Homo sapiens: one gene and its partners. The protein of the gene in region 3 interacts with the protein of the main gene of each other region in a biochemical or structural test. Each region holds a gene or a part of one and is shown on either strand. Other genes may lie near its edges.

The links.
Region 1: the proteins of USP22 (region 3) and ZEB1 form a complex in vitro, tested with the Homo sapiens proteins (one study listed by BioGRID).
Region 2: the proteins of USP22 (region 3) and ATXN7 form a complex in vitro, tested with the Homo sapiens proteins (one study listed by BioGRID).

Annotation. Positions count from the first base shown.
Region 1 is NC_000010.11:31,313,263-31,324,748, forward strand, and holds the start of ZEB1 (zinc finger E-box-binding homeobox 1), read left to right. Parts: upstream 1-5,953; 5' UTR 5,954-5,972; coding exon 5,973-6,030; intron 6,031-6,252; exon of another isoform or gene 6,253-6,945; intron 6,946-7,020; exon of another isoform or gene 7,021-7,185; intron 7,186-7,291; exon of another isoform or gene 7,292-7,436; intron 7,437-7,938; exon of another isoform or gene 7,939-8,263; coding exon of another isoform or gene 8,264-8,270; intron 8,271-8,397; exon of another isoform or gene 8,398-8,573; coding exon of another isoform or gene 8,574-8,589; intron 8,590-11,486. UniProt on the Homo sapiens protein: Acts as a transcriptional repressor. Inhibits interleukin-2 (IL-2) gene expression. Enhances or represses the promoter activity of the ATP1A1 gene depending on the quantity of cDNA and on the cell type.
Region 2 is NC_000003.12:63,999,867-64,008,052, forward strand, and holds the end of ATXN7 (ataxin-7), read left to right. Parts: 3' UTR 1-3,596; downstream 3,597-8,186. UniProt on the Homo sapiens protein: Acts as a component of the SAGA (aka STAGA) transcription coactivator-HAT complex. Mediates the interaction of SAGA complex with the CRX and is involved in CRX-dependent gene activation.
Region 3 is NC_000017.11:21,030,525-21,041,614, forward strand, and holds part of USP22 (ubiquitin carboxyl-terminal hydrolase 22), read right to left. Parts: intron 1-11,090. UniProt on the Homo sapiens protein: Deubiquitinase that plays a role in several cellular processes including transcriptional regulation, cell cycle progression or innate immunity.

The DNA of each region.
Region 1 (11,486 bases), on a different chromosome or scaffold from region 3:
AAAATCTAGCAGGATTTCAATCCACAGGAGGAAGGGAAAGGATGGTGAAGCATCTGTTTTTGAAGATCTTTGTCAATGTTGTGCACACCACTTACATCTCTTTGGCCAGAACTAAGTAGCATAGTGAGACCTAGATACATACAAGAAGAGAAACAGAACCATTTTTTTTTTCCTAGAGGCAGGTCTCACTCTGTTGCCCTGGCTGAAGTGCAGTTGTGTGATCAGAGCTCACTTCACCCTTGAACTCCTGGGCTCAAGTCATCCTCCTGCCTCAGCTTCTTGAGTAGCTGCAACTGTAGGTGCGCTTTACGATGCTTAGCTAATTTTAAAATTTTTTGTAGAGAGTAATCCTGCTATGTTGCCCAGGCTGGGCTCCAACACCCGGCCTTAAGCAATCCTCCTGCCTTGGCTTCCCAAAGCACTGGGATTATAGGCATGAACCACCACACCCAGCTAAGAATTATTTCAAGTGTGATAAAAATGGACAGTTCTATAATTTTAAAAGAGGAAGAAACATATTAGGGACAATTAGCTCTATCTTAATATTGTGGTATGATTTTTTTCTCTCATTGTTTTAAATATGTAAAAGTTGTCTCGCCTAGATTTTAGATTAAGGCAGAGGCCATCATTCCACAAATAGGTTATTGAATAATTACTACGTGATAGTGTTTGCCAGATTTTGCAAGTACATACATTGGAACGTGAGTATATACTTGTTCAACAAATGACATAAGACATTTATATCACATTTAACATTAGTATTGTAATTAATGGAAATAGCAGAATTATTGGTTGGTAAGAAATAAGGTTAAAATGCTTTATTTCTATACGCATATTACTCAGGGTCCTGGCCGGAAGCATATAGCACATTCAAAGGATACTCTGAAGAGAGTTTAATGAAGAGACTATTTACAGAGGTGTGGACAGGTTTTAAAGGAAGGAGTGATGAAGCAATCAATCATTACCACCCTGGGCCTGAAGACACAAAGAGAAGAAGCAGTTTCTGGAACTTGGCAAGACCTGTGGCCATGGGATGAGGGTGTCGGACAGGAGCCAGGGACCTCAGGTAGAGGAACGAAGCTAGAGCCACAGCCAGGCAGCAGGGAATAGAATAAATATCCTGACCTCTCTCTTTTTCCTTTCTCTGATCATTTGCCAAAGCCTCCAAATTGGCTGAAACCAAATAGGAACCAGAGGGCAAAGAAGCCTGGGTGACGTGACTTCCACAGAAGTCAGCCTCGCAGAGCATGGAAAGGCAGAGAATGGACTTTGAAGGACAGAGCATAACAAGGATAATATGAAAAAGCAAAGCATTTCACAGAGTTGGAACGATTCAAAAAATTTTAAACAAAAAGAGAAAGGGAAATGATCCAAACAGAGCGGGCACAAAGAAAGACAGAGGAAGGGAATGATTACAAAGTAAAACAGTGGGGGAGGGGCACAATGTCTGATCTATTTATGTAAGTAGGATAAAGAGAGAGAGAAAAGAAATAGAGGCCTGAGGTCTGAAGAGAATGAGAAGGGTGTGACCAGGGATCTTAAAGTTGTGGATATAATTGGACACAGGGTATTTATCACCATCTTTCTCATGTAAGTTTAATACAATGGTAGAACATCTAAAACCTGTTACTGATTGCAAACATTTTAAATGCATGTACACCAAGGATGTTCAATCCTTGCCTCTGTTCAGAGGCAACGACTGTAACTGAGGATCTGTGGTTTACAGAACACCAGCACTGTAGGTCAAAGAAACAGCCATACTCTGTAACAGAATCAATCAGCTGCTAAAAGAAGTCAAGATGACAGAAAAAAGAAATACGTGGATACAAAAGAGAAAAAACAGCAGTAGAAACCAGCTATCAGACCACTGATATCATGGTAAATAATTAAAATTCACTTAAATCAAAAATATGTGTGTTGCTTCCTCTCAAGTTACCTACATATAATTAAGTGTAGAAAAAATTAAATGTTATTCATATTCATAAGTAATATTAGTAATAGAAACTACAATCTAACTTCTATGGAGGCAGCCTTTGAAAGAAATCCTTTTTAATTACTGTGACTTCATGGAAAACACTAGTTTTACTTTTTGGATATTCACCGACATCCTGCAAACATCTTTCTCCATATATTTATATCTATCTCTGTATTACACACGTTCCTGAAAAATCACCTCGTAAATAAGAAACTACACGTGTTAACATTTCATTGACTTACATTAAAAATAGGAGCCTCATTCCCCAGAGGGGTAAGAACCATTCTGTGGTAAACTATGTAACAAAAATCACATGGAAGTATGGAGAAAACATTTGTCCCTGTGATATCTCCTGGGAGGCTGTATTCGAAGGGCTGGCATGGGTCCTGTGGCCAACTGTGGGTTCTGCATCACCCTGTAGTCATGTTTCCTTCCTGACTCAATGACTGCAGAATTTGGTGAGACTGCAACAGTGAAATGACCATTGCCCTCCTTTGTTCCACGGTGAACTGCAAATCCAGAATTACTGTAGGTCAGGAGCCATGGTCAGAGACAAGAATTGAGTAGCGGCTTTATGGGACCTCTACATTCTGTACTTTGAGGGATAACATGTATCACATTCTTTTTCCTTCAAAAACTCTAAGATTAAAATTAGGTATTGAATTCAAGAGTTGCATTTACATGCTATCCTTCCATGAAATTAACGAACTTTAAATTTTGATGAAGACTAGAGAATTATACATTGCACTTCTCAATGTGTTTTGGAAGAGGTATGTGGGAATGATATGCTTCATGTGGAACACCGTGAAATCTCTACATTTTAAACTTAAGATAATTTTATGTCAAATTTTATCCTAATTTATACAGGAATCATATATGAAAAGCAAATAGGTGCAAAGGGTTTATGAAAAATTTATAGAAAAAACTCAGTATTGGAACTATTCTATCCATTTACATTTTTCCCTGTAAATTTGGAATAGTATAGAAATTCATTTTTAGAATATCTTCCCTTCAGCATATATAATCCCAGTGCTCAGTAGAAGCAGTGTGTTAACATTTCATTGACATATTAAAAATAAGCATATATATTGAATGTATGCTGTATGACAGCACTACAATTACTAAAACCAAGAATGCAGGATACATGTTAAAGTCATATATTAGTATCCCCTACCGTTTGATTTGAATAAACCTAAATTTTAATAATCTTCTTTTATAAATTGATTCTAAAGATTTTTCCCCTATTCTTTAGCTGTATTTAAGAGATAAGAAGCAACCGTCACACATGCATCATGTTTAAAGCAGTAATTTATTCTGAGATTTACTTTTGTCTGTTTTCTTTCCAGTCCAGGTATCAATATTTTCAAGAATATTAAAGTATAATAATCAAACATTCAATTCATAACATATATGCTTATCAGAAGCTTTTACAAAATGGAAATTTTATGTTAGAAGATTTGGGCTACCAGTAATATTCACTGTGCATATTTTAAAAAAAAAGGTGAACAGAGTTCATTGTTTAGGGAAAATGATTATGGAGAAACTAAAATCAAGAGCAATTTTAATGTGGATATTAATGACAGTGATCACTTTCATATCCATGACTTTATCTGTTCCTAAGGACTAAAGGGATGAAGGCAGATTATGTACCTTACTGTCAAGAACAGGGTCAGAAAAGGTCAACAATATTAATTTAAGAAATGTTTATTAAGCATCTACTATTGGCTACGTACTCCACTAGGTGTTGAGGACATAGAAATAAGAAAAAAAAGTTACCTGAAAAGGTACTTGTCCACAGTTTGGCCCAAACTAACTAAACCAGAAACCACTAAAGTAAGGAAGAAAATGACTTCTGTTTGTCTCTTCACTTCATCTCTCTATGAGGTGAGGATGAACACTGAAGGAAGCTTAGCAGGGAGGTACAGGCCAGAAAGAGAACATGAGAAAATGCTATTTGTAATACCTCCTAAGTTTAAGAGTAGGTAAAATGTGTGATAGAGCTGGAAAGTTTTTTTTTCCTTTCTGGTCAGAAATCAGGGTAGCTGTAAAAATGTTGGTGGGGTGGGGTCAATTCCATAGTCTATGACCTGATTCGGTAGGCGACTGAAAAACATTGTACAACTCTTAAAAAAAGGGAGGAAGAACTCACACTTAACCAAGCAAAGCAAGGACACCGTGTTGACATACACAAGTTTCGGTTAACATGGTATCAAGGAAAGCGAGGACTGCCTGTACTTAAAATGATCATTAAGACTAATGATTCTAGTTTTGGCATTGAGGATGAATGCAGATATATAGACATAATGTATAGCAAAGAATATTTACAGTCACATTTCATGGACCAATAAATAACGCATTTACTTCTCAAAATGCCCAAGAAAATGTGGGAGAGAAAATGTTCATTTATATTCAAGATTAAACTTTCTAACTTTAAATCATCAGACTTCAGCTGTAAATTTATTTCAGTTGAAAGGTTTGAAGACATTATTAATGAATATTCTAAAATTCCGGAAGGTGTTTAAAAGATAATTTTAACCTAATAAAAAAATCCTGCCATAGAAGTGACAAAAATTATAAGCATAAATTTATTGAGCACCTACTATGTGTCATTGTGCTAGGTGATGTACTACGTTATTTCCAATACTCCGGTCACGTTTCAGTTTTCTCAATTTCTCTATCAATAACTGCTACATTGTTAATTTATAACTATATTACTTGAAATACAGCTCAGCTTATTTATTCCATAAAGTTGGTCCCAAAGACGTTTCCTTATTCGAAGGAGGTGGGAAGCAGGAAGGAAACCTAAATCTAAATTCTACTTAATACTGAAGACGACTTTCTTGATATTTGTGGTTATCTGTATGGTCTTTTCAGAAATCCCAAAACTTGTACCAAGTCAAGGATAAAATAAGATAAAATCAGCAATCTATCAGGTTCAGAGATCACATCTGTCAGCCGATGCTTCTTGCCTTAAGGTCCTGCACGGCGATGACCGCTCATTTAGGAAGGAATTCATGGCCTGTGGATACCTTAGCTCTGAGTCCTGCCACCTAGGATCCCACGGTTCTACGCGAGGAAGAGGGCGGGGAGCGCGGACCGGGTGTGGGAGGCCGAGGTGACAGCAGGTGAGGGCCGGGTGCGGATGGGGAAGTGAGACAAGCACCGTGTGGGTATTACTCATTCCGCTCTACTAAGGAGGCTGCTGGCAAGCGGAACTTCTAGCCTCTCTTTCAATCCAGCTGAAGTTCAATCTCATTGAAGTCACTTCCCATCCCGGTTCGCTTGGGGGGAAACCAGGCGTCCCTGGAAGGGAAGGGAAGGGAGTCCGGGCTGCGCGGGTCAGGTAGCCTCTCTCCGGTCGCCGCGTGTCCTCGCCGTCCCCAAACCTGCCCTTCCCCTCATCAAGGGAACTCCCCGGGGAGTCCAGACCGCGATCCCTTTCCTTGGCCCCGGGGTGCGGGGGGCGGACACGCGAGGCGTGGGACTGATGGTAGCCCTGCCTCCAGGAAGCAGGCAGGCGGGGACCTCTGGGCGCTCGGAGGGGCAGCTCCGAGGGCACAGGGTACAGGGAGAATCAGCCAGATCCCTCCCTGCCCCGGGCAGCCGCGGCGGGTGTGGCCAGCGCGGAGGCAGGACGCCGCCGAGCCTCCAACTTTACCTTTCCAACTCCGACAGCCCGTCGCCTTTCTGACCGCGTCCCTACGGTTTCCCGGCATCCGCCTCCCTCTCCCCACCACACCTGAGGAAAACTTTTCCCTCGCCCCTCAATTCAAATTCAGCAGTGCCCACGGTTGCCGCAAACCGCCCGGTCCCTAGCAACAAGGTTCCGGCCGTAGAGCGAGAGCCTCTAGGTGTAAGGAAGGTGATGTCGTAAAGCCGGGAGTGTCGTAAACCAGGTGCGGTGGGGAGGGGGGAGGGGTGGAGGCGGAGGGGTGGGGGGGAAGGGGGAGGGAGGGGGAGGAGGTGACTCGAGCATTTAGACACAAGCGAGAGGATCATGGCGGATGGCCCCAGGTGTAAGCGCAGAAAGCAGGCGAACCCGCGGCGCAATAACGGTGAGTGGCGGAGGGGACCGGGGAGCGGCGGAGTCAGGGGGAGCTGGGCAGCCGGGGCGCCCCCGGGGGTGAGGGGGGCGAGCCGGGCTGGGGGCAGCCGGGGCAGGGACGGCAAAGTGGAGTGGGAAAGTAGAAAGTAGTGCTCTCTGCCCCCCTCCGCTGCCGCCGCTGCCGGAGCCGCGCCGCGGCCGCTCGCTCTCCCTGAACCGTTATGTCTCTTACCTGGTCTCTCTCCGCCTAGCGGCTCCCGCCGCCCCTGCCGCCTCCCTGGACCGTTAGCCGGCGCCGACGCCGCCGCATCCCCGGCGCAGGGCGGGCGGCCGGGACGCACTGGCCACTTTTCTGGTCCCGGGTGGAGCGGCTGTTGCTTCTTTCCGCACTTTTCCCCACTCTTGTGCCCTTCGGCGCCTCCCTCTCCCCCTCCTCCTGGCCCCCTCAGCGCGATTCTCCCTCAGCGCCCAGGCCCCCGGGAGCCGCGGAACAAACTTGTGCCCGGCGCTGACCGTGCAAAGTGGCTTCCGCGCGCCGCGGCCCCGGCCGGCGCCGTCGCTGTCGCTCGGGCCCCGCGACTCGGGCCGGGCTGTGGGCGCGCGGCAGGCGGGCTGCGGCGGCGGCGGGACGGGGCGGCCGCGGGTTGCGTGGGGTTTGTGCGCGCGTGTGCGCGGGCGCCGGCTGTGCGCGCCGCGGGCGGACAGGGTTCGGCCGGCGGCGGTAAAGTTGGGACCCGCGGGCCGGGCGCGCTCGCGTAACGGGGATTAGAGGCGCGGGGGCGCGGGTCCCTAAGCGCCCCTCCTCCCTGGCGCCTCCCGCTGCCCGGCCCAGAGCCCCGGCCTGGGGACTCCGCGGCGAGCCCCGCGAGTGGGGTCCACGTTTGGCGGGGCGCGGCGGGGCGGCGCGGGGAACAAGGCAGGAAAGGTACCCACTTAACGCCGCCGGGAGCCGCGCGGATGGGGGCGAGCTGGGCGGCGGGTGTGTTTGCGGAGTTGTTACCTGGGCTTAGAGACCGGGAAGCACCACAGACAGATCCCCCTCCCGGGGCAGACGAGGTCTCTGCGCCGGGATGGGCCGGTGTGCGTGCGCCTCGCGCTTTTCTCTTTCGGTTTTTGGGGAAGTTGTTACCTGGGCCGGACGCACGGAGCGCTGAAGCCGGATAATGGGGCTTGGATGGCGCTCTGGGTCTCGGGTGGAAGGAGGGTGGGGGAGGGGGCGGACGGACCGACGGACGCGCGGGGCTGCTACTTGCACCGCAGCTGCAGTGTTTATTGATTTGTGCTGCTGTGCCAAGGGAAACACACACCCCTCTGCCTGGCGTGAGAGTTAAAAAAAAAGAGAGACAGCCCGAGGGATCGAGACCTGAACATGTGGTGGTGGTTGCACAGTCGCCTTTTCCAGTTTGGAGAGACGTTGTAAGTTGATTGTATTTCTGGTTATCTCGGGGCGATGCTATGCTTTCTCTCCCTCTCGTGCAGCAGCGAAATGTCTGCTGATTGTTATTGTCTGGACAGTTCCTGTGGCGAGAGGGGCGAGACTTGTCCGCCCGGGGGCGGCGGGAGCGCAGGGAGAGCAGCCCCCGCCTGCGCCGCCCCGGTACCTGTTTGTATAATAATGGGCGGCAACGGCCCTGCCGCCGGCCGCAGCCCAGGCTATATAAGGAATTACACGTACATTTCGGACCGAGGGGCTCGCTTTGGTTCCTGCGTTATTTTTAAAACGACTTTTAAGAGAGGGGCAATAAATGCGTCTATAATGGGACCGCTGCAGCGTCGAGAAAACGAGGAAATACGTGTTTAGGAGAAAACTCTCTCGTGCTCCCCCAGCCCCACCCCCCGCGCCTGGGCTCCCTTTCTCCCTCCCCTCTGGGATGCGAAACGCGAGGTTTTGTAACCTTTCCTGGCAATTTTAGATTTTGTGTGGGATTTCCTGTCTAGAAGCAGATACGAAGATTTTTAAGCTGTTTCAAGATGTTTCCTTCCAATCCATAATTATATTTTTAATATATTCGAGCCATCATTAAAATCACTGCTTTCGTGATTTTAATTATTCAAATAAACACTTGCATTTTAAAGACGTCTGTTGATTATAAACGAAAGGTATTTTGGTATTCTCATTGTGGAGAGATGACTTGTTATAGCAAGGAGTGGAGCATAGGCTATTGCAATTTTAATTTCCTGTTTTAGCGTCAAATAGTGTGTGTTCCATATTGAGCTGTTGCCGCTGTTGCTGATGTGGCTTTATGAAAGGTAAGTTGGTTCGGAAAGAGCTGTTCGCTTTTTACCTTATTTAAAATGTTGATCGCCAGAGAAAGGGGCTTTTCTTGTTGCTGACGACATGTGTGTGACATGTGAGTCTGAACCACCCAGCGTCTGTGCAGCTGCTGTAAACATGTTTACCTGAACAGGAAAGAATGGATTTTTCTCCTTGAGATCCTGTGATATGAATATTACACTCGTAAGGCATATCAACAGATGACTTAAGGGGGGAAAAGCGATCCTGAAAGATACTTGAAATCAACAGGAAAGAGAGGTTCTTGATCGCTGCAGCAAATGGCAACTTGTGCAGGTAGAAAAAAAGATGGTGTTTAGTTTTCTCCTGCATGTATGTCAGCCCCCTCCTGTCTGCTGCTTTCATTCTCAAGGGAGGGATTTATTTACCACGCTTGCTGTCAGTGTTTTTCCTTTGTGTTTAATATTAGAAAAACAGATTTGCGTCTGTTTAGCACAAAACGTCTTGTCTGCAGTATGCATTACTCTCAGAAAACAAAAGGTGTTTAAGATAGCACTGTACTACTACAGGTATCTTCCATTTTCATCACTTTTGGCTCTGTCCTTGTATTTCTTTTTGTTCTCAAATGCATTTCATCCATTGCTGGTGATTATAGCCATGCTATTTGATTTAGCCTTATATTTTGCAAATTAAAAATGAAGTTATATTCCATTGTGTTGTGAAACCTCAGTATATGTGCTGGTTAATATTTCTTAGCAGTGCAGTCATATTTAAGTTGCAGATGTTTATTGGAGAAAATTGCCTGGCAAAACGTTAACTCTCAAATCTTTTTAATGAAGAAATATGTGATATATACAGTGGAAGATTGTCGTAGAGATAGTTTATGTTGTTATATATGTAAATAATGTTTTATTCATTTTGAAATAAGATACGTGGATTTTGCTGCTAAGCCTTCTGTAAAATATTTTAATTTCCTTTCTGGAATATGTCTGAAGGTAGGATATTAAAAGGAGTATCAGGTAATGTAACTGACAGGGGTAAACCAATTGAGTAAGGTTTGGCCAAAGCATCAAACCTTGTGTGGTAACTTAATGATGTTAGTCATCCGTAAAGGAGTGACATTAGAATTGCTTGAATTAGTTTTTACCATTTATAATTTCATGCTTTGTTGCATTTTAAAAAATCTGTCTTTTTCTTTTTCTGCTTTCTTCTATGTGGTTTTCTTCTTGTTCTACCTTTTTTTTTTTTGAGAGAGAGATGTACTCTACTAATGACCACATGCTGATTAATTCTCTTTAGATGGAATAGAAGGTACATATCCTTCTGTCATCAGCACCATTTCCCCTTGCTGTCATTGGAAACCACCAGTAGAGGATGCTAACAAAAATGATTATTGGTGTGGTAGCATCATAAGTCTCTCTATCGACTGTGCTGATTGGGACCTTCAGTATAATTCTGAGTCTTATTGTTACTTAAAACTAGCCTTGGTTAAATTAGGCATAAGCATTTTCTAGTTTGCCGAAACTAGAAAGAAGCAGGACTGTTTTAACTTGAATAATTTTATAAATTTGAGTTATTTAAGTCTCTAATTGAGATTGCTGTTAATTCATTCTTGTTTTAGAGCAGTTGTATTACTCCTTATTTTAAAAAGATTTTGTTTTATGTTCTTAGGTTTGGAGAAGAATATGTAATAATTGACCCATATTTATGTTGCATATTTAGAATACTTTTTAATCACCCCTTTTTAAAATTCATAGTAAGATCCCTTAAAATATATATTTTAGATGTTAAAATACATCTAAAATGGTCAAAGTTTAAGAGTAGCAAGGAAAATTACAATTGATTGATAATACTGTGTAATTATTTTTATATAACTTATGTAGACTTAGACTATGGATGGGTTGGCAGAGAGCTACTAACGGAGGTGGTAACTAGCAGTCACTTAGATGTTAGTGATTTTTAGATTTTATCTTTTCCTTCCCCTTCAGGTCTTTTCCTACTGGTAGCCCTCCCCCACCTTTTTAGTTAAGAATCAGTGAGTGCATACGTTTTAAATTTGTCAGTTGTAATTAAGGAATATAAGTTTGCTTTGAGATCTTATATGCAGTAAAACTCTGTAGTTCGTACGTTGCTGTATGCTTGTATTTAAATAATTCCTTTCAAGAAACTATATAAATTGCATATAAATAATTGCATGAGACTGTATTTAGTTATGTCTTTTCATTTTGTGTTCTTATAGGTATATTAATATAACTGTAAATTTTAAGCCTCTCATTAGGTAGAACATTAGAAGTATTTATTTCCTTAATTATTTTTAGTGGTGTTTTTATAAATGCATCAATATCAGTACCGTAATGGAATAGCCATACTGTTTATCTTGAACTAAGTAGGTATTGAATTGCCAGGTAAGCCTGTGTTAATTTCTTATTTTAGGATGTCATGGTTCTTCGTGTGTGTGTGTGTGTGTGTGTGTGTGTGTGTAAATAGTTTTTCATTTCCTGACAGGTATTTCTTGAATTTAGTATTCTAATTCCTGAGGGCTCAGTAGTGAATAGGTGTGATTCACTTAAATGTTTATGAACTCAGAAACTTTGCCACAAAGTCACGAGATACATTGTAGCATGGAGCAAAACTTAAAGTATCTTATAAATTGAAAATATTAATCGTTTATGAAGATGACCCTGATATAAAAAGCATGTGAAATATTTGTTTAATACTGTTTTCTTCCTTTCTCTAGTCTCTAGTATGTTTGAAATGGCATACCTCCTATGTAGTAGCTTTTGAAGCATGTGCTGAGAAACTTCTGTTAAATTGAGAATGATATTTTTAAAATAAGAGCATAATGATTTCTCATAGTTGTGTTTTTCTTTTGCTTTATCCTCTTGTGGATTTACCTGTATAAATCACTTTTAAGCATGTGGTTAGAGCCAGATGTAAACACAGATGCAGTATCATGTGGAATTATATTGTTAGCTACTCTTAACTACCTGTATTGAATTGCAGCAGAGGAGGAGAAAAATCATGCAGATGTTGGAAGAAGATATGCATTAGTGTGCAAGAGTACAGCGAGAGGTTAGAAAACTTGAAGCTGTAGAAATAGGATTGAAAAAGGTTTCTTTGCAGTACAGTCACTAATTTATGTGGAAATGCATGCTCTTTATTTCTAATTGAGATATAAGCTAAAATAAAAGTCCATTGTTGAAAGAAAACTCAAAAAATTTTAAACTAGAAAA
Region 2 (8,186 bases), on a different chromosome or scaffold from region 3:
TCCTTTTACTACCATTTTTTTTTAACACTGTCATCTGTAGGTCACTCTCCAGCAGTTAGGCACCTTAACTGGAGACCAGAAACCTTCCAGAGAACACAGGGCTGCATCCCGAGCAACCCTCTGAAGAAGGGAATTAGGCTTTAGATTTTGATAGCAATGTTCCAGGAATGAAATATAGATGTTAGCCCAAGACACCATGACAAAATAGCCCAGCCTTTTGAGAGTAATTTGGGAAAAGAAGCTGTCAGAAGTTTCTAACTTACAAACTGGTTTGAAATTTTTGATGCCCAGACAGCAAGTATAAATCATTTTGGAGGCTTACTTTTCATGATACAAAAGCAATTCTGTGTGATTTTTTTTTTTAAGAAGAAAGAAAATGCAAGCTAGTTTTGAGAAAGGAAGGCCAAATTGGGTCGGGGGAGGGTGGGAGTGAGGAAGTTAAAATCACTATAGGGAGAAAAAACTTTTTTCAAGATTTCCAAAGAGATGAAATTTTCTTAATCCTTTTAAGTTTTCATAGTAAACAGTATGGCAGATTGGGTTGGTTGTCCTACCTGGTCTATTTTTAAAAGTCACCTTTTAAAGTGACATTATTAGATACACTTAAATGTTTCCAAGGCACTCTCTACATTACCCTTGTTTTTCTCTTTGGATACTGTCCTGGGACTAAGTGTAGATTTCTGCTTCAAGCACTTCTGGCATTGTGTGTTTTTGTATGCACTCCCCTTCATGCCACTTCAGATGTTTATTTGGATGTGGTTGGGGACGAGAGCAGACACCAAGGAAAGGGAGTTGGAGAGAATGTAAGTCCTGACCTGAAGGTCTTTTGTGATGCATGTATAGGATTGCCCTGACACACACCCTCCTTTCTTGGGATTATACCAGCCATCTTCCTGAGAGTTTTGGAGCCCTCTAGGATATTTTTTCTAGTACCCCACCCCCCACCCCTAAAGAAAGACCTTAATATGTTAAAACAGCATTGCTTGGAGAAGGTGTCATTGAATTCCGGGACGAGCCGGAGCCTTTAAATGGGTGCTTCCACCACTACAGGCTCCTGACACGAGTAACAGGCACTGTTGCTTAGAAGAACACACGAAGTTGCCGAACACAGGGTAAAATTTCCAAGGCGCTGATCGTTGCCCTGGCCAGGGCCTGATGAGAGCCAGTCAGTACATTCTTTTTTTCCTACAGTTCTTGGGTTTCAAACTTCAGTTTCAGGGAATTTCAAGTCAACAACAGGTAGAATGAATAAACTTGGTTACCAGCCTAATAATGTGAATTGCTACAGAATTATTCTTATTATGTAAGAAAACAAAAACTTTATGCAGATACTTTAGCTATAAATTGATGTAAAATACTGATTTTTTTAAAGGAAGGAGAGAACAGTATCTTGTTCAATTATTATGCAATCAATCAGTAAATGTTTTTAAAATGATACTACAGGAGAGCTTAGTAAGGAGAGGGCATGGATGGGCCAGTTTGGCATAGTTGGGAGAAATCAGTCTGGTTTCCATCCCAGTCGGGGAAGAGAGAGGTGAGAGGGAATCAGAACGTACCTAGTTGATTCCTTGGTGACAAGTGCAATGGGGTATGGGTAGAATTTATTTTCAGAGCCAAGAGGACTTGATGGTTATAAATAAAGTTGCCTTTAGCAATGGAATTTACAGATCGATCATGTTGTTCCGAAAGATGTGAATAGGATCCACAATAACAAGTTGATTCAGACTAATGTAGATATTTAGATTAGCAAGTATTGAACATTTGATTTCTTAGACTGAGGTTTTAAATGAATTTCATTATTTCTCCCGGTAATACACAGAGCATCGGGATTAGGAAATTAGCCATTTTGGATTCTGTCTGCCACAAACAGACCTATTCTAAACAGTGCTATTAAATTTTAGACTGTTGTTCAAATATTTTATTTTCTCCTAAACTACTTTTTATGGTGATGAATAATTAAGACCATTTAAAACACGGGAGTACAAGTATTTTTTTGAATTAAATTAACTTGCAAAAACCAAATTTGCAGTGGTTGGGTTGTTTCTAGACAGACTTTGGTATCAATTTAAAACCAAGATAATTTTTATATTCTTTCCAATAGAATTTCATGACAACTCCTGCAGTTTTCTTAACCTACAAAAAAAAAAAAAAAGTGCTGCAATGATGAACAAAGAATTATACAAAACCTACTTTTGTATCTTTATTTTGGAATTTCTTGTTCTATTATAAATATGGAAGTATCCCTATTTCAGAAGACATATTTTGTTAAAAATGAATTGTACATATTTAAATATGTATTTTTGCACAGGTCTTTTTTTCTGATATCCTGTTTTGGTACAATTGAGATCATCTAGTATTTATTTATTAATTAATAAAAGTAAATACCTTTTTATAATTTGAAGTGGTTCACTGCCAAGCCAATAGTTCTAGAACCTGCCTCCTTTACAGTTTTAAGGGATGCCTCTGTTCTGTGAAAAGTCTTTGTCCCTTTTAGTGTCTCGGGAGTGGATTCATACAGATGAAGTGGGCATTGCTTCTTCCTGGTTGCCTGGTTTCCCGATAGACTACATGTAACTAAGTGACACACTGCTTTTCTTTTGTTAGTATTTTATGTGTGGGAGTATGTGACTGCGTGTGTGTGTGCCTGTGCGTGTGTGTGTATACTCAGCACATGTATGTTACTATGTGATGTGGTTTAAAACTAATGGAAAAAACTGAAAGTGCCTGAAACTAGTTTTAAGCTTAGACAGAATCTCTTTAAAAAGACTTGAATGTTCAGTTGAACTTTTGGAGTTTGCTTTTTCCACCTAAATATTGTTTCTAAAATTTTAGGGGCGGAGTTGAAAACCACCAATGCTGGTAATTTTATAAGGTATTTTAAAATTAAGACCTCTTGGTTCATAGTAATTCAATTGGTGATGGATTGCCTGGTGGCACCAAGGGTTACAGATCTTTTTGTCAGCCAGCAACTTACACGATGTGTCCGTTTTGTTATTCACTCATGAAATACAATTTAAAATATTTAAAATATTTTGTATTCCAAAAATATAATACAAAGAAGTACCTCTGAGAACATTGAAAAAAATGTATAATTTGAAAAATGTAACTTATAAGGGCAGCTGTCTTCCTGCAAGAGTTCTGTTGCCAAGGAATTTCTTAATGTCGCTCATTCTGTCCAGGGGGTTTGGGGCGATTGGGCTTTGAAAAAATATTCTTAAAAGTTTGTTTAGCAGAAAATAATCACTTTTACATTTTGTGCAAAACATTTTACATTTTCAGATAATTTAAATGAGCACTACATACTGTCAGTGTGAATGTAGGGCCTTGAAAGCATTTTGCTTTTTTTTTTTTTTTTTTTTTTTTGAGCTTGGTTATAAAAGCAATCTCCTGTGTTAAAAACGTGTGAATAGTTTGATAATTTGTACACATAATCAAGAGCATCTCAGCTGGACTTTGTGTTGGCTGCTGTATAGAACATGAACAAATGTCAAGGGATAGAAAATTACTTTGGATATTTAAAAGAGAAGAAATATATAGTCTATTTGTTTTGTAACAAGTTTCTGTAAATAAAATAATTTATACTATTTATAAGAAAAGGTTGTGCTTTGCTTTATAAGAAATTAGCTTGTGGAACAAACATGTTACTAAACGGGCAATAAAATTAGGACTTCTCAATAAATAAGGTTGGCTGCATGAAATATTGTACGTTTCTGCCTCGTTGTGATACTAAACCCTTTCAGTCTACTCTGACTTTTCATCACTTTTGGCATGGAACACCCTTGTGAAGCCCCTTCAATTTAGCCTTCCTCTTATATAAGCTAAATACTTCTAAGGCCTGGGGATGTTTCCATCTGGGGGCACAAAGCTTTGCTTTGGATAAATTAGTAACTGTGTAAACAGTGAACATTACTGTATTCTGGCCTTGCATGTTTGTGAAAGAAACGAGGGAGTTGATGGATTGAGAAACACATTCTATTTGTACTTAGGTGCAAATTTGATGACATGTAGTTTTGGTTTAAGATAAGCTTTTTATCCAGACCCGGTCTAATCTCTTCCTTTCTTTTACATACCTCCCTTACTGGCAATACAAGTGCATTTTAGTATTATTTGGAACACAGCATAATCATTTACCTCTAGAAATCCAGACATTTTTACTGTTTGCAAATAAACCATTCTGATAAATTATTTTTGTTGCTTAAAATAAGAGGAGGAACCGCTGTGTGTTAGCAAGAATGTCCATACCTGATATGAAAGAGTCATGTTGGCTTCAGTTCCTACTGCCCTGTGGACTTCCCATTCCCTCCTTACTTGAGTCAACCATCCACTCAGTACTTTCCACAAATCTAATAATGAGGTGCTCTCTGTAGGTAAATCCTTTCACTATGGCTTGTCCTCAAACCTCCCAAGAAAAGGTTCAACTGCTCAATCTCTTAACCTTTTTAATTCCATTCCCTTGCAGGTATCCCGGCCCTGCATAACAAGATGATCCCAACTCAAGGAAAGGGGTTTAGCAGTGTTGGATCTTGGCGTATGTGGGATTTAACCAGGCAGAAAGGCAGACAAGAGTAAGATTCTAGGCAGAGAGAGCAAATGCGTCGAGCATGGGTATGAACATGTGAGGGATAGAGAATAATTCTGCAGGAAGTTTGCTGGATGGAAGGGCCTTATAGGGTTAGAAAAGCTGGTGTCAGATTGTCAAGGACTTTGAATGTCATGGGGCTTCTCTTCCAGGAACACATGGGATCAGGCTTAGATTAACCCAAATGTAATTGTCAGAGCCCAGAGATATTTCATGGTCCAGTCCTAGCACTGTGCAGCTGCCAAAAGTCAAAGCCATTCAAATCTGTACTGAAAACTGTGGAAAAGCAAAGGAGCACTTAAGTCTCTTTCCCCATGTCTTGCATTCTCACTCTCTTTTGCTTCAAAGATCTGTCTTTACCTGCCCCTGTCCCCAGTCCTAACAAAAAGCACTCCCCTAAATCAACTCTTAAGTTCCTCTCCCTTCTCACTCCTTTCTTAGTCTCCTCTTTCTGTAAGAAGTTCTTGCTCCTGTTGTTAATGGAAGTTAATTAAAGTAGTATTTCACCTTGTAAGGCTGTAATTCTTGGCACTTGTTATCCTCATTTTCTACATCCAAAGACCATGGACCAGAATATCTCTTAGGAGGTAAGGGAGAGTGAGGCTATCAGCCAAAGAAAAAGTCTCCAGGGGGAAGGGGAGAATCACTTATAATTTAATACTTTGTGGAAAAAACATCTCTGCCACCTATGGCCCTCCAATAACAATGGAAGACAGAATCAACAGGTGAGAACCTTGGGACAAAAATAAGTTACAAAGCTGTTGTAATCCAGGTAAGAGCTATTAAGTTTCCAAACGAAGGCTGACTGTGAGGATAAGTGATACTGATTTCAGAAATCTTTAAAAAGTAGAACCAACAAGCCTTGAGGTCTAACTCTGTTCAACATTAAAGGGAAGAGTGAGTCTAAGAAGACTTCAGGTTTCTAGCTTGGCCAAACCAATTGAGCTTTAAGTGAAATGTGCGATATGGTAACAGAGAAGGAAAAAGACATAACGATAGATTTGAGCTGCTGGTGGGAAATTCTGGTTTAGTGCCCAGCTGGCTGTACAGGCTGGTTGGACTTTAGGAGGGAGGTTTGAGCTGGAAAATAAAGATGGAGAGTTGTCTTTCAGTTTTAGATCATCAGTGAGGTCATAAGGGTAGATGGAGTTTACCTGGGAAAATTAAGTAGCTATTCGATTTGGCTTATTATTATGTTAAAATAATACTTCTCTAGTGAAGTACTTAATATGCCAGATACTGTGCCAAGCATTTTATATACATCCTCTCTTTTACTAAGCCCTCATAGGGCAGGTATTTTGATTCCAATCATACTGATTGGAACTCCTAAGAAGGTATCTTGCTTAAGGTCCCACAACGAATAGGTGGCAGATCCAGGGTAATTCAGGTCTGTCAGAACAGTGATTCTTAATTTTTTCCCTCCTCAGACTCCAGGAGTCACATGAAGTTATGCATCCTGTCTGACCGAGGCACAGGCACACCACATTTTTATATTCCGCTTCCAGGATATCACAAACCTGAAGCCCATCCTCCATGGCCCAGAGAGAAAACCCAGGACAAAACCTTGGAGAAGACTATTTTCATGAAGACAAATGGAGAAGGAGCAGTAGAGTAAAAAGAGAGGTAAGGGAAGGCATTGAGATGGTTTACAGGGTTAGATGTTTTGAGTCAATCCCATTATAATTACCAATGCTATCTACCTATTTAGTTAACGTTTTATTGCCCTGCTGTTTTCTCCAGGATAATTGGAACAGCATGTATTGGTTGGGTGGAAAAGATAGAACTTGAGCAGGGAGATTGCCAAAGAGTGAAGATGTGGCTGAGTGATTGATGATGGTCTGAACTGGGTATTCAGGGAAGAGAACTAGAAGCCAACCATGTAGAATCTATGCAGGTGCTCTTAAGACATTGGTTTGACTGGAATTATCTTCTTGTTAGGTCTTAGGAATCTCCTTCCAGGTAACTTTTTCTATGATTAGACAATTGATTTGTTCAGGGTCACAGAGCAAAGTCCACATTTAATTCCACATGGCCAATAAAAGTGAGGGGCTACAAGGTGAGATCCAGGGGCCAGAGTTATCAAAGTGATACAGCACTTTTAGGAATAGGACAGGGAATGGAGGAATTGGAATTCCAGTATTACTTTCAAAAGCAGAACTGGCCAGAGGAATTGGAATTCCAGTATTATTTTCAAAAGCAGAACTGGCCAGAGGTGCTTGTGATTCCTGGGTGGAAACCATGGCAGTGGACAGAAGCAGCATGGAGGAAAAGAGCACTGGAATTCAGGCTGAGGAACTGTGAAGCCAAGGGTGTTGTATAGGTTGTCCATTTCAAATTAGGGTTGCTTGGTTCTGGGATGATTTGCATGGAAGAGGGGAGAGTGACTTGGAGATGTGTGATTGAGGACAGTGAGCACAGTGAGTTGATGGTGTTGCTGGGTTATAAGCAGCTTCAAAGAGAAGGCATTTTGAATGAAGGTGGAAACATAATGGCCAGGAGAACAAGCAAAGGACTAGGAAACAGTGAACTTCATCTTGGCCTCAAGTTCCTGAGGTGCATATGAATAAACAGTCTCTAACCCAGAGGGTTTCAAGAAAAGCAGAGTCCTCAAAATCCAAAGGTAGAGTTTCCCCACATTGATATTATACTAATTACACGTATAACAGTACTTTGGAAAAGCACAGGTCTCTGGTCACCTCTAAAAGGCAAGGTTGGTAAGGAGGTCAGGGTGTCACCTGTTGGTAGTCTTAACTAAATGGTCTCTTCAAGGGATCTAAGGATGGAAAGGGGATATATAATGGTTGGATTAAAGGCTCATCATTGATTAGCAAATTGTCCCTTTTGTTTCTTAAACCCAATTTGTACAGGGAAAGTTATGCCACTGTAAGATATTTTTAAATGGGGAAAAAAAAAAAAAAAAAAAAAAGGTTATACCCTTTGACCATGTATGTCAAGGTTAAAATGGCCTGGATCAGATTGCTACAAATTCCTGATAGCCTTTGTATTCCTTCAGAAACACAAGCATAATGCAAATCTGTGGCTCTACAGCTTTGAAACCAAAACTAGTGATTATCAGAGCTTTTCATGTTATCCAGATGGGGATTTTACCCCACTCCCCCATTGCCATTGTGGAGGCACAGGTTTGTTACCAGCAACTACAAGTTTATGTAGCATTGGGAAGGTCAGGGATTATCATAGTTCCCTCCACGCTTTTTCCCCCATAATCATGGGGGCAGATATTTCAGCTGTCAGCTGTTCATCTTAAAAACATTAGGTTAACAGCAGCACCAAGGACTAATTCAGAATATGAAATTACAGAAATGATTTGCTAATGATTTAGTAGCCTTTTATCAGTTAATGTTTGGTCAGGTTATAAAAGACCAAATGTGTTCAGTCACAAAATCCTAAGTGTATTGAGTATTGCATGCTTAGTGATCAAGTTGTAGGCATCCTTCTAGCCATCTGGGGCAGGTAAAAGTTGGGTGCTTAACAAAAGTGGTTTTTACACTGTTTCTGTCCTAAGAGACACTGTTTTTTAATAGCTTAAAAATTGACCTAAAGCTGTTATTTCTAATACAGGAAATAGATTACCATAATTTGACATAGC
Region 3 (11,090 bases):
TCTGGCCAACGCCACCCTAACCAAACTTATCCCCACCACAGAGCAGGCAAGTGCAGAGAACAACATGGCGGCGCCTGTGGCGTGCTCAGACCAACACGACCCATCTGGAACCTGCTCCTGAGAAGTAGGGAGGTATGTCCAAATTGAAGGACTTCTGCAAAATGACTGACCTGAGCTCTTCAAAAACATTAATGTAATGAAAGAAAAATAGGCTAGGAATTTCTAGATGAACCAAATCTAAAGACACATGAAATCAAATGCAATCCATGATCTTGGATTGAATCCTATACGCCAATTTTTAAAGGCATAAAGGATATTATTGGAACAATTCAGGTATTTAAAGTTGGACAATGTATGTTAGATAGTACTATTTGAAAAATTAAACTGAGTGTGATAACTGTATTGCGCTTATGTAGGAGACTGTCCCAGTTCTTAGGAGGTAAACTACCATGATGTCTACAGTCAGCCCTCAGATGATTCAGAAAAAGGTACAGACATAAAACCAGTTAGCAAGAAGCTAACAATTGATGAATCCATATAAATGTATACAATATTCATTTTAGCATTCTTGCTATTTGTTGTAGGTTTCTTATTTTCCAAATAAATGGATAGAAGACAACTATTAAATTGAACACATGTACCCTACAGCCTAACGCTTCAATTCATAGGTTTATACGCAACCAAAGACACGTACAAGGACTTTTGTAGCATTATTACTTGCAACACCGCAGAGCTGAAAATACAAATGTTCATGACTTGTAAAAAGAATAAACTATACTACAGTTAATTGAGTAAAGTACACAGCAATGAAAAGGAACTTATGATATACTCAGCAGCGTGGATGAATCTCAGAAACCTAACACTGAACAAAACAACTAAACACAACAAGCTCCTGCTGTGCTACACACTCCATTATAGTCTATCTCTACTACACAACCTAGGACTGTGCTACACACTCCATTATAGTCTCTCTCTACTACACAACCTAGGACTATGCTACACACTCCATTATAGTCTATCTCTACTACACAACCTAGGACTGTGCTACACACTCCATTATAGTCTCTCTCTACTACACAACCTAGGACTGTGCTACACACTCCATTATAGTCTCTCTCTACTACACAACCTAGGACTGTGCTACACACTCCATTATAGTCTCTCTCTACTACACAACCTAGGACTGTGCTACACACTCCATTATAGTCTATCTCTACTACACAACCTAGGACTGTGCTACACACTCCATTATGGTCTATCTCTACTACACAACCTAGGATGCTCCCCTGCACGGGTTTACCAATCACCAGGGAAGACACATTTTACAGGCCTTATGGAGCCAACACAGCTAAGAGACAGCTTCTCCAACATTATTCAAGCAGCCAACCAACAAGACAACTGGCGCTAAATACAGAAAACAGCTGTCTCTGACATACTGATAAAACCTCAATCTTATGTCTGGTATAGTCACACACCACATAGCAATGTTTCAGTGAATGACAGGCTGCATGTACAATGGCGGTCCCAGAAGATTATAGTATCATATTTTTACTGTAACCTTCTCTATGTTTAGCTATAGAAACACAAATGCTTACAACCGTCTTTCAACTGCCTACAGTGTTCAGTACGGTACGTGCTGTACAGGTTTGCTGCCTAGGAGCAACAGGCTCCATCTCACACAGCCTGGGTGTGCAGCAGGCTGTACCATCTAGCTTTGTGTTAAGTCACTCCATGATGTTCACACAAAGACAAAATCGCCTAACAATGCATTTCTCAGAATGTATCCTGTTGTTAAACAATGCCAACACTGCATTATTATTTTTCCCCAATCTACACTGTGGAACAGCACGTCCATTGATAATACTGTATCAGATTTAAATGTAACAGAGGCAGACACAGGAGTAAGGTAGCACATGTCTTCCAGTGTCTGGAGGAGGCCAGGAATAGCCTCTGGAGTGGCTACCCTGCAAACACTTTATTTTGGACGTCCAGTCTCATAATTTGAGATGAAATTTCTGTTGTTCTAAGTTAATCGGTTTGTGGTGGTTTGTTACAGCAGGCCCGGTCACTCACATGGGGTTCACATTCATTTTTATTCTATCTCCTTTCACAGCACTGTAAAGTAGAAAACACAGCCAGGCGTGTTGGCTCACGCCAGGAATGCAGCACTTTGGGAGGCCGAGGTGGGAGGACAGCTTGAGGCCAGGAGTTCAAGACCAGCCTGGGCCAAATGGTGAAACCTCATCTCTACAAAAAATGCAAAAATTAGCTGGGCATGGTGGCACACACCTGTAGTCCCAGTTACTCAGGATGGTTTGAGCCCAGGAGGTCAAGGCTGCAGTGAGCCAAGATCGCACCACTGCCCTCTAGCCTGAGCAACAGAACCAGACCCTGTCTCAAAAAAAAAAAAAAAAAAAAAAAAAAAAAAAGTTGAAAATGCATTCCCCAGGCACCCTTGCAGCTCATGTTCCAAACATATCTTGAGACACATTTGCAGACGATGCGGTTGGTGAGTAAGCTAAGGAGAGAGGCCCAGTGGGGGCATCCACAGGCTGACATGGACCGTGGAGGGGTGGCACTGTTTAAGCAGCCCAGCACACCACTTTCTGGTGTGGTGGCTCCTGCAGAGGCAGGATTCCCCAGGCTGGCGGGTTTTCCTAGAAATTCAACCTAGAATCTACTACTCCATAGCCCTTGCAATGATTTCTGAATTAAATCCTTTTCTCCTATAAATTAATTCAAGTAGATTCAGTAGACTGCAAGCAAATCCTGAAACATAACTAGGATTTGTATGTGACAGGAATTAGAAGAGGATCAATTATTTAATTGTTGTTGATCTTATGCAGTACAGAAACACCCTGCCAAATTCATTAATTTGGTCCCGATATTAAGAATATTCCTCTGAATATCCTGTCCTCTTATCTCCCCACTCACACTACCTCCCACCCCAAGAAGGATGCGGAGGAGCAAGAGGGGCAGAGCCCTTGTAGTCAACCAGACTTACCCTATGGGATGACTCAACAGTACACTGAATTTTGAGTCCAGCTTTTAAAAGTGTGCAAACATGACACACCACCTTAAGAGCTAGTGCACTTTTCACACATTACCCATGACTTCCTACTGGTCTAAAACCTGAGCATCTTAGGAAGGTAAGTTTAATTCTTGTGCATTCTCTTCAGTGACTTTTTCAAGGACTCAAACACTGACATAAGTGAAGGGACAGGTATAATTTTTTTTTTTTTTGAGAAGGAGTCTTGCTCTGTCACCAGGCTGGAGTGCAGTGGCGTAATCTCCGCTAACTGCAACCTCCGCCTCCCGGGTTCAAGTGATTCCCCTGCCTCAGCCTCCCGAGTATCTGGGACTACGGGCGCGTGCCACCATGCTCGGCTAACTTTTTGTATTTTAGTACAGATGAGGTTTCACCATGTTGGCCAGGATGGTCTTGAACTACTGACCTCAAGTGATCCACCCACCTCAGCCTCCCAAAGTGCTGGGATTACAGGCATGAGCCACCGTGCCCGGCCTAAATATTCTATCCTTTATATGAAAAAAAAAATACGGCACTAAAAAGCTAAAGACTTTGCCAAAATTAGATAATCTTCTCAAATTAAGTTCCCCAACCTCAAAAACCTCAGCTTCCAGACTCAGGCCCCTCAATCTCGGAGCCAAAATCAATCTAAGGGTACAGCGACTCCAGACCTTTCAATTTACAGAAGGGGTAATTTCATTCAGCAAAGGCAAGACCTCAGACTGACCTCATTTCAAGGCTGGGACCCAGCAGTTGCCGGTGATGTCCTTGGACAGGTCAGGAGACTTACTTGCCAGGCCTACCTAAAAAGTGTATCCCAACTACCAAAACCAGAAGGAAATTACGTATGAAATATAAAATATCACAGCAGTCCTCCCTTACCTACAGTTCCGCTTGCTGTGGTTTCAGTTACCCACAGTCAACCTCAGTCTGAAAATAGTAACATGGAAATGCCAGAAATAAACAATTCATAAGCTTTAAACTGCCCGCCGTTCTGAGAAACATGATGAAACTGAGTGACATCCCGCTCTGTCCCATGACCATCCCTTTGTCCAGCTTCTCCGTGCCATCTAGGCCACCTGCCCGTTAAGTCACTTGGTAGCTGTCTTGCTGATCACATCAACTGTTGCGGATGTGATCACGGATAAAAGTGAACACAAGCCACTTTTATTTGGCTTAATATGGCCCCAAAGCTCAAGAGTACTGATGCTGCAATTTGGATATGCCAAAGAAAAGCCATAAAGGGCTTCTTTTACGTGAAAAGGTAAAAATTCTTAATAAGAAAACAATATCAAATAACAAGGTTGCTAAGATCTACAGTAAGAACAAATCTATCCATGAAATTATGAAGGAAAAAAGTTTGCACGTAATACAAATGGGGTTCAGTATTATCTGTGGTTTCAGACAACTACCGGAGGTCTTGGAATGTATCCCTCAAGGATGGGGGTGAGTACTCTATTATCATAAACAGGAAATGAGGAAGCCCAAGAGATGCTGTGCTGAGGGACACACACTTGGACGGAAGCAAACTGGGGCAAAATCCTCCTGGTACTGACCAGCTTAGGCTAGTCTTCCTTTAAATTGAGCTCACCTCACACAACTGTCAATTACACATGTATGGGGAGCAATCACATTATCCTAAAGCCTCATTTTAATCTACCATTCTCACTTAATTCTCTGAGTTTCTTACCAGAGCTGCTAACATATAATAATAAAACTCACACTCAATTCTATCTCAATTTCTACTCTTCAGCACCCTCTGCTACAGGTACTGGCCAACATAAAACAAGAGGCAAGAAAAAGACTCACATATCCATTAGGCGGGTCATTTTAATCCTTGAAAACTGAGTTTACTTCCTACCTAAGCTTCCATCCGCTTAATACCAAGGTGATCAAGTCTGTGTGCTAAATACAGGAAAAGCCTTAATAGGAGACCCTGCTACCAATTTGTAGGAAATAGGACAAAAAAAAAACAAACCACAACACTTTGAACTTCCACTGTTGAGTATGCAAACAGCAAAATCCAGACTATAGGGAAGTCAACAAGTCACAAGGCCCAAGTTTTTCAACAGATAAAGTAGAAGCAAAAAACTGTAAGAAAGGAATGAAGAGAGAACCTACAGATTAAGAAACTTAAACGACTTACCAGTATAGCCACATGATAAATACCATTAAAAGAAAAAGGAATGAACTTTCGGCTGGGCGCGGTGGCTCACGCCTGTAATCCCAGCACTTCGGGAGGCTGAGGCAGACAGATCACAAGGTCAGGAGATCGAGACCATCCTGGCTAACACAGTGAAACCCAGTCTCTACTAAAAATACAAAAAAATTAGCTGGGCGTGGTGGCAGGCGCCTGTAGTCCCAGTTACTCGGGAGGCTGAGGCAAGAGAATGGCGTGAACCCAGGAGGCGGAGCTTGCAGTGAGCCGAGATCGCACCACTGCACTCCAGCCTGGGCGACAGAGCAAGACTCCGTCTCAAAAAAAAAAAAAAAAAAAAAAAAAGGAATGAACTTTCAATCCACTCAATGGATACAATGGATATTGCTAGACAAAAGAAGCCAGTATGAAAAGGCTACAGACTGTATGAACCCAATGATATGACATTCTGGAAAGGGAAAAACCTCCGAGATGGAGACGAGACCAGTGGTTGTGGAGAGTTAGAAGGTGAAGCACAGGGATTTCTTGGGGCAGTGCAACTGTTCTGTACAGTACTGTAGTTGTGGATGCCTCTGTCAAAATCCACTGAGCTTTAAAGCACAAAGAGCAAACCTTAATATATGCGATTTTAAAAATAACTGATGAGGCCCTATGGAATGCAGGCTGAGGCAGAAGAAACCAATTGTATTACACATATAGGACACAACTCCGCCAAGAGGGGTGGGGAGGGAAGTACCTAAGTAATGTGGAAATGAGGAGGGAGTGTAAGACTAAAAGCAAAAGGAACTGTAACTGAGCACTGTACTGTAAGGGGGGGGGGGGTCAAGTCATTTCCCAAGGGAGTACAGGACAATTCTGAAACCTCTCTTCATGTATACCAAAGCACAACAGGTAAGTAAGTAGATTGTCGACAGTGGGAGCCAGCATTTTCTCTGCTGGACAGAGAAGTTACAGATAAACTGGAGGGGAAGGCTAGAATAATCCCTATAGAAATGGATTAGAGTTGGAGATATAAACATGAACTCATGTAGAGCTTAATAGGGATGCTGATGAATATATATCAAATTACAGACGTGTATATGCACGCATTTGTATATACACACCTGTTTCCCAGCTCTGTCCCTTGAGGGGGCCAAGAAGCCAGGATATCCCAGTAATGATGAACACACCAGTGCCCAGATCTTGAGATCTAATTCCATTCTCCCAAAAAAGAAACTAGGGATCCTTGGAAAATGCTGGAGTCTAAGGCTGGGGCAGAAAACACATAAGATGATCCCAGAACATCGTGTAGTTCCAGAAAGTAAGGAAGTGCTCAAAAACAACGAACAAAAAATAATGTGGCTATGTGAAAGGGACACCGGAGCCAGCTGAAAGAGCTCCCAGTGGATACAGCCAGATGATGGGAGCAACACAACAAACCACACAGCACTGGATGATAACCCAAAGCATACATTCAATATCCACAAGTCCATGTTGATATACACAAATGAATAAACACACGAGTGAGGATCAGCAAATCTTCCATACATAAACGTTCCAAATAATTTAAGTAGCTACTCCATCCTCAAGGAGGAGGAACAGAACTCCCCACCCCGGTAGAGTACCTATGCAGAGTGACTCCCTTCTATTATAAACAGTACATAAAGGAGGGAAAGAGTCACTCCACAGTGGAGAAACCTGGCAAACATGACTTCGGCCATTCAGTCAAGCCCAGCAACCCAAGACATCTTGACAGCATCATCCTTAATTTACGGGAATGAGAAGGGCACTTCATCTCCCTGGTCTTCCTTCCCAAAACTCATAACCACAGCTGAATCATGAGAAAAACATCAGAAAACCAAAACTGAGGGACATTCTACAAACTACATGACCGGGACTCCTCAAAACTCTCAAGGTCACCAAACAGGACAGCCTGAGAAACTGTCACTGTCTAGAAGAGCCCAAGAGGACGTGAAGACTCAAAGTAATGTGGGATTCTGAGACAGAATAAGGACATTACATAAAAACCAATGAGTTCTGAATAAAGTATGCAGTGTAGTTAATGAACTAAATACACAAACACAAATGAGTAGAAGTAAAAGCGGGGAAATCTGAATGAGATGGTGGATTATATTGAAGATAGACTGTATCAATGTCAATATTCTGGTGGTAATTGTACTCCATTTCTGCAAGAAGTTACCCTTAGAGGACTGGGGAAAGATACACAGGATTACTCTATTTTCTTACACCAGTATGTCAATCTACAATGACCTCAAAATTAAAACCTTAAACAGAAAAATGTTTACATTTTAGATCTTTTACTTAGACCCCACTTAGTATGAATGGTGTAATGTTTTGTTGTGATGATTTGAAAGATCCAGTTCACTATAAAATAAAAAGTAAATTCCTCAAAGAAACAAAGTTTTAAAGTATACTTTTAAAATAGCACATATCATCCCAGCACTGTGGGAGGCCGAAGTGAATCTCCTAAGGCCAGGAGTTCAAGACCAGCCTGGGCAACATAGGGAGACTCAGTCTTTTATTTTTTTTTAATAAATAAATAAATACAATAGCACGTATCAGGAAAATGAGCTAGACTATGAAAATAAAAACAAGTAATGAGAGCTCTCTACAATGTGCTCACCACCATCCCAGCACCTGGCTGAGCCAGTAAAGACAGACTGAGGCATTGTTGGATGGCTGGGAGAGGTGGCTCATGCCTGTAATGCCAGCACTTTGGGAGGCCAAGGAGAGAGGATCACTTAGCTCAGAAGTTCAAGACCAGCCTGGGCAACATGGCAAAACTCATGGCTACCAAAAATACAAAAATTAGCCAGGTGCGGTGGCGCATGCCTGTAGTCCCAGCTACTTGGGAGGCTGAGGCAGGAGGATCACTGGACCCCAGGAACTCGAGGCTGCAGTGAGCCATGATCATACCACTGCACTCCAGCCTGAGTGAGAGACAGACCCTGTCTCAAAAAAAAAAAAAATACATAAAAAATAAAAAATTTAAAAAAGTGTTTTGAGGACACAGTGCCATAAAATTTTAGATTCAAAGAGAGAAATGGTTTTAAAAACATTACCTGTTCTCCAAAGTGTCTATATTCAAAATATAATGTAGAATGTTAAATCATAATCACTTCCTGCCAGTTCCTATCTTTACAGACAAACCCTGAAATGGTAAGAAATTTGTTATATTTAACACACACCAAAAACACAAAGGAGACGCCACTGTGGTCGTGCCAGTCCTAAATCATGGAAATAGTTTTTTTCTTTTTTTTTGAGACGGTCTCGCTCTGTCGCCCAGGCTGGAGTGCAGTGGTGCGATCTCGGCTCACTGCAACCTCCGCCTCCCTGGTTCAAGCGATTCTCCTGCCCCAGCCTCACGAGTAGCTGGGATTACAGGCGCGTGCCACCATGCCCAGCTAATTTTGTGTATTTTTAGTAAAGACATGGTTTCACCGTGTTAGCCAGGATGGTCTCGATCTCCTGACCTCGTGATCCGCCCGCCTCGGCCTCCCAACGTGCTGGGATTACAGGCGTGAGCCACCATGCCCGGCAGAAATATTTTTATAGTCTGCAATACAAGAGTTTTATGGCAATTCGGGCCAGGCGCGGTGGCTCATGCCTGTAATCCCAGCACTTTGGGAGGCCAAGATGGGCGGATCACCTGAGGTTGGGAGTTCGAGACCAGTCTGACCAACATGAAGAAACCCCATCTCTACGAAAAATACAAAATTAGCCAGGCATGGTGGCGCATGCCTGTAATCCCAGCTACTTGGGAGAATCACTTAAACCCTGGAGGGGGAGGCTGTGGTGAGCCGAGATCACGCCATTGCCCTCCAGCCTGGGCAAAAAGAGTGAAAACCCCATCTCAAAAAACAGAGTTTTACTGCAATTCAAGCTTCTTTTGGACAGAAATTTATCAAGCCTGGTCATGTTTTTGTCATGTTCTGCCTGTTAAAAGAAGAATCAAAGTTTGGGTACAAAATGCATAATCCATCTGTCCTTAGATAACAAAACTCGTAATTCCTATTCATTCAGGGATTCATTTCTTTAAACTGTACCTGAGATGTCCATCTCAAAAAGTACCTTTGTTTGTTTACAAAGATTATAATTCAAGTTGAAGTTTGTTTTGAGATAGGTTTTGTTGTCCAGGCTGGAGTACAGTGGCACAATCATCAGCTTAAAGTACTTTTACAGTCAAGTTCATATCATTAAAACCAAAAATATGGCTGGGCTCAGTGGCTCTGGCCTGTAATCCCAGCACTCTGGGAGACAGGAGGATGGCTTGAGTCCAGGAGTTCAAGACCAGCCTGTGCAATATAGTGAGACACTGTCTCTACAAATATTAGCCGGTCGTGGTGACACACGCCCGTAGTCCCAGCTACTCAGGAGAGGCTGGAGTCCAGGAATCTGAGGCTGCAGTGATCACTGACCAGACCATTGCACTCCATCCTGGGTAACAGAGCAAGACTCTGTCTCTACAAAAAATAATTTTTAATAAAATAAAATTTAAAAAACAAAATGTCCTAAGCTTACAGATCTGATGGAAATCCTATGCAGATTGTCCAACTGTTAATCATCAGGTTTGTTAAACTATTTCCCAAACCAACTCTTCCTTAACTGGGCCACTAGAGAGTGCTAGAAATGCAGGACACCGCACATGAAGTGATACAGGTAAATAAGTCCCCCCAGTCAGAGGAAAAAGCATGGAGGGCTTAAGGGCTCCTTGCTGGCACACTGCCAACTGGCACTGCAGCAGCCCCCACCTAAATTTTGAAAGAAATATTTTTCACTACCCGACTACAGTTCAACTTCTAATTGGTGAATAACATACATGTGGCTCAACAGTTTTGAAACTAAGCAACTGACATCTGAAATTAAAAGATTAATCAGAGCCATAAGTAGCGCAAAAAAAAAAAGTAATTCTTAACTTTAGGAAATTAGGCAAAGTTAGTTAATGATGGTTTAAACTTGACTCCTTCTATTTGGTTAAAAAATACCAGAGGGGGGAAGAAAGGGAGAGGGAGGGAGGGAACGGAAAAAGAAAAGGAGGGAGAGGAAGAGTGGGGCGGTCCCCACTTCATCCAAAGTAGTAACAAATCTTGGGCGCGTCACGTCCCAATCCGGACACTACTGACCCAGAGTAGCAACAGCACATTCCCTGTAGAAGACTGGCTTCAACCAGGCCACCCTTTTTTTTTTTTTTCCGGAGGGGGTCTTGCTCTGTCACCCAGTCTGGAGTACAGTGGCGCGATCACTGCTCACTGCAACCTCCGCCTCCCGGGTTGAAGTGATTCTCCTGCCTCAACCTCTGGAGTAGCTGGGATTACAGGCGCCCGCCATCACACCCGGCTACTTTTCGTATTTTTAGTAGAGATGAGGTTTCACCATGTTGGCCAGGCTGGTCTCGAACTCCTGACCTCGTGATCTGCCCCCCTCGGCCTCCCCACGTGCTGGGATTACAGGCGTCAGCCACCGCGCCAAGCCAGGCCATCTTTTCTTAAAGACACACAATTCTACTAGCAAGACTCTAACTCCGATCCTGAAACGTTTTATGTCTGATTTTAGTTCATCCAGACATAACGCTACCTGATACCATTACAGATAAAAAAAATTTTGAGGCCGGGCACGGTGGCTCATGCCTGTAATCCCAACACTTTGGGAGGCAGAGGCGGGTGGATCACCTGAGATCAGGAGTTCCAGACCAGCCTGGCCAACATGGTGAAACCCCGTCTCTACTAAAAATACAAAAATTAGCCGGGCGTGGTAGCAGGAGCCTGTAATCCCAGCTACTCAGGAGGCTGAGGCAGGAGAATCGGCTGAACCCGGGAGGCGGAGATTGTAGTGAGCCGAAATCGCGCCACTGCACTCCAGCCTGGGGTACAAAGCGAGACTTCGTCTCAAAAAAATAATTTTTTT